3 separate regions of the Homo sapiens genome follow, and all the other regions are linked to region 1. Evidence: fine-mapped expression QTL. Tissue or cell type: cerebellum. Region 1 holds a variant in brackets; each other region holds the start of a gene. All regions are shown on one strand. Distances are from middle to middle.

Region 1 (2,756 bases):
TAAATAGGCCAGGTAGGGTGGCTCATGCCTATAATCCCAGCACTTTGGGAGGCCGAGGCAGGTGGATCATTTGAGGTCAGGAGTTCAAGACCAGCCTGGCCAACATGGTGAAACCCCGTCTCCACTAAAAATACAAAAATTAGCCAGGCGGTAGTAGTGTGCACGTGTAATCCCTGCTACTTGGGAGGCTGAGGCAGGAGACTCGCTTGAGCCTGGGAGGCGGAGGTTGTGATGAGCCCAGATTGTACCACTGCACTCCAGTCTGGGTGACAGAGTGAGACCCTGTATCAAAACAAAACAAAACAAAAACAACAAAAACGTCAGCTGTAGGAAGGAAGGATGATTATAGGAGTTGGGGCATCAAATGGGGGCAGAGGTGGCTGCAGCACCTGCCCTGTCTGGCTACAAACAGCCCAGGGACTTCCCAGCCCTTCATGTCTTCTCCCTTGCAGGTCTTAGCACCTAGGCTGTAAATTCAGAGACCACACCTGCCCAGTGGGTGTGGCTCTGGGTGTCAGAGAGTAGTGGCATCCATGGGGCCACTGGGTGTCAGACATCCATGGGGCCCTGGGTATCAGAGCTGAGCTTTATAGAGGTGACAAAATCAAAATCTGTTTGCCACCACCTCCTCATAATGTAGCCTAATCTGGGCATGGGTTCTTCCCTGTCTGATAAGTGGCGGGTACATGGCACCTCCTAGTAGCTTTTATTTGCCTTCCTGGGGACACAAATGAGGCTGGGCACCTTTTAAAATGAAGAAGGCATCTGGGCATGGTGACTCATGCCTGTAATTCCAGCACTCTGGGAGGCCAAGGCAGGTGGATCACTTGAGGTCAGGAATTCGAGACCAGCCTGGCCAACATGATAAAACCCCATCTCTACTAAAAATACAAAAATAAGCCAGGCGTGGTGGTGGGCGCCTGTAATCCCAGCTATTCGGGAGGTTGAGGCAGGAGAATCTCTGGAGCCCAGGACGAGGAGGTTGCAGTGAGCTGAGAACATGCCACTGCACTCCAGCCTGGGAGACAGAGACTCCATCTCAAAAAAGAAACCAAACAAACAGGGCTGGGCGCATTGGCTCACGCCTGTAATCCCAGCACTTTGGGAGGCCCAGGCCGGTGGATCACTTGAGGCCAGGAGTTCGAGACTAGCCTGGCCAACATGGTGAAACCCCCATCTCTACTAAGAAAACAAAAATTAGCTGGGCGTGGTGGCAGGTGCCTGTAATCTCAGCTACTCGGGAGGCTGAGGCAGGAGAATTGCTTGAACCCGGCAGGCAGAGGTTTCAGTGAGCCCAGATGGCGCCGCTGCACTCCAGCCTTGATGACAGAGCAAGACTCCGTCTCAAACAAACAACAACAACAACAACAAAAAAAACAAAAAAACACAAGCAAACAAAAAAGCGCAGAAGGCACTTTTCCCAGGTGTGGCCTCCTAACTGCCCAGCCTTCCAGAGCAGGTGTGACGTGACCTATCTCAGAAGAGTGAATTCCAAGAGAGAGGGCGCGGAACCCGTTAAACCTGCCAACCCCGGGCAGGCGTGATGCCATTATGCAGTTTACATGCCCTGGTCTCTTCCACCCGGGTGGCCTTAAAACCTCAGCTGTGGTACAGAGTGATCCA[T/C]TGGCACAGCACCATCAACTGGGCCACATGTCAGAGGCCACCCCCAGCTGATAAGTGGCCTAATTGGATTTTCTTTTGAGCTGAAATTCACAAAACAAAAAATGAACCACTTTAAAATGAACAATTCAGTGAGTTTCAGTATATTCATAATATGTGCAACCACACCCTTTATCTAATTTGTGCACATTTTCATCCCCTCCGAAAGGAAACCCTGTCCCCTTCAGCAGTCATGCCCCATTTCCCCTCCCACAGCTCCTGGCAACCACTAATTAGCTTCCTGTCTCTGTGGATTTGCCTGTTCTGGGCATTTCACATAAATGGAATCATACGACATGTGGCCTTTTGTGTCTGGCTTCTTTCACTCAGCATCGTGTTTTTTATTTCATCCCTGTTGTAGCAGGGATCAGGACTTCAATCTCTTATCAGGACTTCAATCTCTCTCTTTTTTTTTTTTTTTTGAGACAGAGTCTCGCTCTGTCATCCAGGCTGGAGTGCAGTGGCATGATCTGGGCTCACTGCAACCTCTGCTTCCTGGATTTGAGCAGTTCTCCTGCCTCAGCTCCCCGAGTAGCTGGGATTACAAGCATGCGCCACCATGCCCAACTAATTTTTGTATTTTTAGTAGAGAGGGATTTTGCCATGTTGGCCAGGCTGGTCTCGAACTCTTGACCTCAAGTGATCTGCCTGCCTCAGCCTCCCAAAGTGCTGGGATTACAGGCGTGAGCTACTGGCCAGGACTTCAGTCTTTCTGATGGCTGAAAAAGACTCCAGGCAGGGCACAGTGGCTCACACCTGTAACCCCAGCACTTTGGGAGGCTGAGGCGGGTGGATTGCTTGAGGTCAGGGGTTCAAGACCAGCCTGGGCAACATGGTGAAACCCCCGTCTCTACTGAAAATACAAAAAGTAGCCGGGCGTGGTGGCAGGTGCCTATAATCCCAGCTACTCGGGAGGCTGAGACAAGAGAGCTGCTTGAACCTGGGAGGTGGAGGTTGCAGTGAGCCAAGATCCTGCCACTGCACTCCAGCCTGGGTGACAGAGCGAGACTCTGTCTCAAAAAAAAAAAAAAAAACAAAAAAAAAAAAAACTCAAGACTCCACTGATGGACCACATGTTGTTTATCCATTCATCCACT
Region 2 (2,628 bases), 57 kb after region 1:
TGGCTGGGATTACAGGCGCGCACCACAGCGCCCAGCTAATTTTTGTATTTTTAGTAGAGACGGAGTTTCACCATGTTGGCCAGGCTGGTCTCAAACTCCTGGCCTCAGGTGATTCGCCTGCCTTGGCCTCCCAAAGTGCTGTGATTACACACGTGAGCCACATTGCCCAGCCTTTTTATTTATTTATTTATTTTGTAGGGGGGAGGACGGATTCTTGTTCTGTCTCCCAGGCTGGAGTGCAGTGGCATGATCTCGGCTCACTGCAAACTCCACCTCCCAGGTTCAAGCGATTCTCCTGCCTCAGCCTCCTGAGTAGCTGGAATTACAGGCACCCGCCACCAAACCTGGCTAATTTTTGTGTTTTTAGTAGAGATAGGGTTTCACCATGTTGACCAGGCTGATCTCGAACTCCTGACCTCCAGTGATCCGCTGGCCTCAGCCTCCCAAAGTGTTGGGATTAAAGGCATGAGCCACTGTGCCCAGCCCCAGTCGAGTTTAAAATAAGGCTTCAGTGGCAGTGGCGCCCCACTGCAATCCCAGCTACTCAGGGGGCTGAGGCAGCAGGATAGCTTGAGGCCAGGGGTTAGAGACCTGCCTGAACAACATAGCAAGACTCCCATCTCCAAAACAACAAAAAAATCTTAACAGAATATTATTATTCTGTAATACTGTAACAAAAAAAAATGAAAAGTCAGAGGTGATGTTTGGTCCCAGAAAACGCCATAGTTTTTTTGGTTTTTTAAAAATGTTTGTAGAAATGGAGGTCTGGCTATGTTGCCCAGGCTGGCCTTGAACTCCTGGCCTCAAGCTATCCTCCCGCCTCGGCATCCCCTGTTTATAATCCTCAACGTTCTGCATCCTGGTATGGTCGGGTACCCTGTGTCTGGACCGGGAAGGCCTGGAGGGTAGGGGCTGGGAACTCCGCCCCCCAATCCCTCCTTCCCAATCCCTCCTCCCCACCCCCAACCCCGCAGCCCCCGTCGCGCATGCGCAATGACTCCTCCAGGTCCGCAAGGCAGGCATCTCCCGGCCTTAGTCAAAGCCGAAGCCCAGAGAAGCGAGCGATCGGAGGATGCGAGTCTCGGCTCACGTCTGCCTCGCAGCTTTCCTCCGAGGCCTGGAAGGCGAGCTAGCCTTTGCCCTGGCAGCACCCTGCCCCAGCCCAGCCATCCCCCGCCACCACCATCCTCCCCCAGTGTCTGGGCCGAGCCCTGCGGCATCGCCAGCTCTTACCTAGCGGGCAGGGACCCTGGACTTTCGAAGGGCGGGCAGAGCCGGGAGGCAGCGAGAGGAAAGTCCCACTCGGCTCCTTCCTGTGTGGGCCCCTTGGTTTCCTGAGCCACTGTCATTTACCGAAAGTCAGGGCCCTGCGGGAGCTGGGGGCGGGGAGGCGGGCAAGGAGGGGCAGAAAGTTCCGGAAGCCTCTGCATCAGCCGCCCCGTTCAGACAGGCTGCTGGAGACCCCTAAGCCAAAGGAACTGATGATAGCACAGAGAAGGGTCTGGGTCACACCAGGGGCTCAGCCGACTCTAGACCCACTTGTTAAGTGGGGCTCTGGCCCGGCCCTTATTGCCTCAGTTTACCCATCTGTAGCATGTGTGAGTTGGGCACCCAGTGGAACTAATTTTGCACCCAGGGAAGGAAACCTGGCTGGATTTGCCCAGGAGGGAAGCAGGGAAGTTGCCCCAGAGGAAGGTCAAGTTCTTCTTTGAGGTATTTCTCCCTTAAGACTCAGGGAGACGCTGGGCGCAGTGGCTCACGCCTGTCATCCCAGCACTTTGGGAGACTGAGGCGGGCGATTACTTGAGGTCAGGAGTTTGAGACCAGCCTAGCCAACATGGCGAAACTCCGTCTCTACTAAAAATACAAAAATTAGCCAGGCGTGGTGGCCTGTAATCGCAGCACTTTGGGAGGCTGAGGCGGGCGGATCACTTGAAGTCAGGAGTTTGAGACCAGCCTGGCCAACATGATGAAACCCTGTCTCTACTAAAAACAGGAAAATTAGCCAGGCCTGGTGATGCCTGTAATCCTAGCTACTCAGGAGGCTGAGGTGGGAGGATTGCTTGAATCTAGGAGGCGGATGTTACAGTGAGACGAGATGGCGCCACTGCACTCCAGCCTGGCAACAGAGCGGGACTTCGTTTAAAAAAAAAAGAAAAGACTCAGGGAGAGATAATGACCCATTTCTGCCTGTGGTGCCCTGGGCCCAGCCCTAAAAAACCAGGTGGATCCGGCCTGGCCTCTTGGAACTTGTGATCTGGCGCTGAGACAATGAGCAAATGAAGGAGCCAAATCATCGCAGACAACAAAGAAAGCCAGGGTGTCAGGACAGGCACAGACTGGAACTTGGACCCGAGGCAGGACAGGGAGCTGGCCAGGGAAAGGGTGCTCCAGGAGGAGGGCACAGGATGGGCAAAGACCTTGAGAGGGCAGTGATCTTAGCAGCTTGAAGAGCAGTCAGGAGGCCAGGGGCAGGGGTGAGATGAGGGGGAAGGGGACTGCAGGGCGGTCAACAGGGGCAAGATCGTGGGGGGACAGGGGGATCAGGGTCTTTGGGAGAAGGGTGGGTTTTGCCTGGAGCATAATCTGGAGCCACAGGAGAGTTGGAAGTAGGAGCTGTTATAAATA
Region 3 (2,628 bases), 30 kb after region 1:
GTGTGGTGGTGCGTGCCCGCAGTCCCAGCTACTCTGGAGGCTGAGGCAGGAAAATTGCTGGAACCCGGGAGGCAGAGGTTGCAGTGAGACGAGATCACGTCACAGCACTCTGGTTTGGGTGACAGAGCGAGGCTATGTCTCAAAATAAATAAATAAAAATAAAATAATAAAATAAAGTAACATAATTGTGAAAAGCAATACTTTTCAAAAGCAATACTTTTAAATACTTTTAAAGCTGGACACAGTGACTCACATCGCTAATCCCAACACTTTGGAAGGTCAAGGTGGGAGGATTACTTGAGCTCAGGAGTTTGAGACCAGCCTGGGAAACAGAGTGAGACTCCCTCTCTACGAAAAAGAAAAAAAAATTAGCTGGGTGTGGTGGCAGCACCTGTATCCCAGCCACTCCAGAGGCTGAGGCAGGAGGATGGTTTGAGCCCAGGAGGTTGAGCCTGCAGTGAGCCGAGATCTCACCACTGCACTCCAGCCTGGGCGTCAGAGTGAGACCCTGTCTCAAAAAACAAACAAACAAAGCAAAATTAAGGCAAAAATTCATGAAGATCAAAATATTGAAATTTTAAGACAGGATCTCACCATGTACTTGCAAGAGCCTACCTCTCCTGCCTCACTCTGTTTCTGGCCCCTCAGGGGGACTCATGCTCTGAGGACTTTCTTTTTTTTTTTTTTTTGAGACGGAGTTTCACTCTGTCGCCCAGGCTGGAGTGCAATGGCATGATATCGGCCCACTGCAACCTCTGCCTTCCGGGTTCAAGCGATTCTCCTGCCTTGGCCTCCCAAGTAGCTGGGATTACAGATGTGCATCATTATCCCCGGCTAATTTTTTTAAAAATTATTTTTAGTAGAGATGGGGTTTCACCATTTTGGCCAGGCTGGTCTCGAACTCCTGACCTCTGGGGATCCACCCGCCTCAGCCTCCCAAAGTGCTGGGATTGCAGGCGTGAGCCACCACGCCTGGCTAACGGCTCTGGGGACTTTCACACGCGCGTTCACACACACTCCAGTGCGGACCCACGATCTGTGCACGCAGCCGGCAGGTGAGCCCTGGGCACATGCATGCAAACCTGCCCACCTCCCTGCACGTGTGCATCTGCGCCTACGTGCACCTGCCCCACCTCGGCTTCCCAGAGCGCTGTCCCTGCCCGTCCCCACTCACGGTCGCCTCCGGTCGCAGGCCTCCTGGCTTCGGTGGACCAGCGGGGGCCCCCGCACACGCGCACTAGCGCGCGTACGAAGTGGTGGCCGCACAACTTCTCACGCATCTCTGGGGTGGGCGCGGGGCCCAACGCGAACACCAGGGCAGGGCCCAGCAGCACCAGCGCCCAGGCGGGCAGACGGGGGTCCATGGTGGTGGGTGGCGCCGGGGCCAAGCGGGGACCCCCTTTATAGGCGCCTGGGCCGTCCCAGCTGGGGGCCTTGGAGAAGGGACAGAACATTCTTCAGGACCGCCCAGGAAAAAGGTCAAGGGTGGGGTTAGTGCCAGAGCCTTTCTCCCAGGGCCAGGGCCTTGGATGTACTTCTCCCAGAGGGAGCACTGGGCAACGAGTCTTTCTTTTTTATTTTTTTCTTCTTTTTTTTTGAGATGGAGTCTCACTCTGTCACCCAGGTTGGAGTGCAGTGACTTGATCTCGGCTCACTGCAACTTCTGACACCCGGGTTCAAGCGATTCTCCTGCCTCAGCCTCCTGAGTAGCTGGGATTACAGGTGCGCACCACTATGCCTGGCTAATTTTTTTTTTTTTATTTTTTATTTTTAGTAGAGACTGGGGTTCGCCATGTTGGCCAGGCTGGTCTCCAACTCCTGACCTCAAGCGATCCATCTGCCTCGGCCTCCCAAAATGCTGGGATTACAGGCATGAGCTGTGCCTGGACTATTATTATTTTTATTATTATTATTGAGACAAAGTCTTGCTCTGTCTTCCAGGCTGGAGTGCAGTGATGCGATCTCGGCTCACTGCAACCTCCACCTCCTGGGTTCAAGTGATTCTCCCACCTCAGCCTCCCAAGTAGCTGGGATTACAGGTGTAAGCCACCACGCCCAGCCACCTATTTTTATTTTTTATTTTTGAGATGAGTTCTTGCTCTGTTACCCTGGCTGGAGTGCAGTGGCACGATATGGGCTCACTGCCACCTCCCTATCCCTGACTCAAGCAATTCTCCCACCTCAGCCTCCTGAGTAGCTGGGACTACAGGCCCACGCCACCACACCCGGCTAATTTTTTGTATTTTTTTTGTAGAGATGGGGTTTTGCCATGTTGCCCAGGCTGGTCTCAAACTCCTGGACTCAAGTCATCTTCCCGCCTCAGCCTCCCAAAGTCCTGGGATCACAGGCGAGAGCGACCACACCAGGGTATTTATTCATTTTTGACATAGGATCTCTCTGGGTTGGCCTGTAATGGCAGGATCATAGCTCACTGTAACCTCATTCCCCTGGGCTCAAGCGATCCTTCAGCCTCTGCCTCCTGAGTAGCTGGGACTACAGGCCTGCAATACAATGCCCAGCTAATTTTTAATTTTTTAATTTTTATTTTTATCTTTTTAGACAGAGTCTTACTCTGTCACCCAGGCTGGAGTACAGTGGTGCGATCTCGACTCACTGCAACCTTTGCTT

What was found. PIP is the estimated chance that this variant, and not a neighbour inherited with it, causes the effect.
Region 2: JAK3 starts here. The variant in region 1 is fine-mapped to the expression of JAK3 in cerebellum (GTEx, PIP above 0.99). The same link has a PIP of 0.9 or more in cerebellar hemisphere.
Region 3: it holds the start of INSL3, and the variant in region 1 is fine-mapped to the expression of INSL3 in cerebellum (GTEx, PIP above 0.99). The same link has a PIP of 0.9 or more in cerebellar hemisphere.

The regions. Positions count from the first base shown.
Region 1 is chr19:17,789,902-17,792,657 of GRCh38, forward strand. No RefSeq gene overlaps it. Among named protein-coding and RNA genes, the nearest start is that of B3GNT3, 3.9 kb to the right of the region's middle. The variant T/C (reference allele first, on the strand shown) is at 1,624.
Region 2 is chr19:17,846,713-17,849,340 of GRCh38, forward strand. It overlaps JAK3 (Janus kinase 3), which reads right to left and starts at 1,270. Exons shown (of 24, transcript NM_000215.4): 1 at 1,234-1,270.
Region 3 is chr19:17,820,143-17,822,770 of GRCh38, forward strand. It overlaps INSL3 (insulin like 3), which reads right to left and starts at 1,377. Exons shown (of 2, transcript NM_005543.4): 1 at 1,175-1,377. The coding sequence starts at 1,364.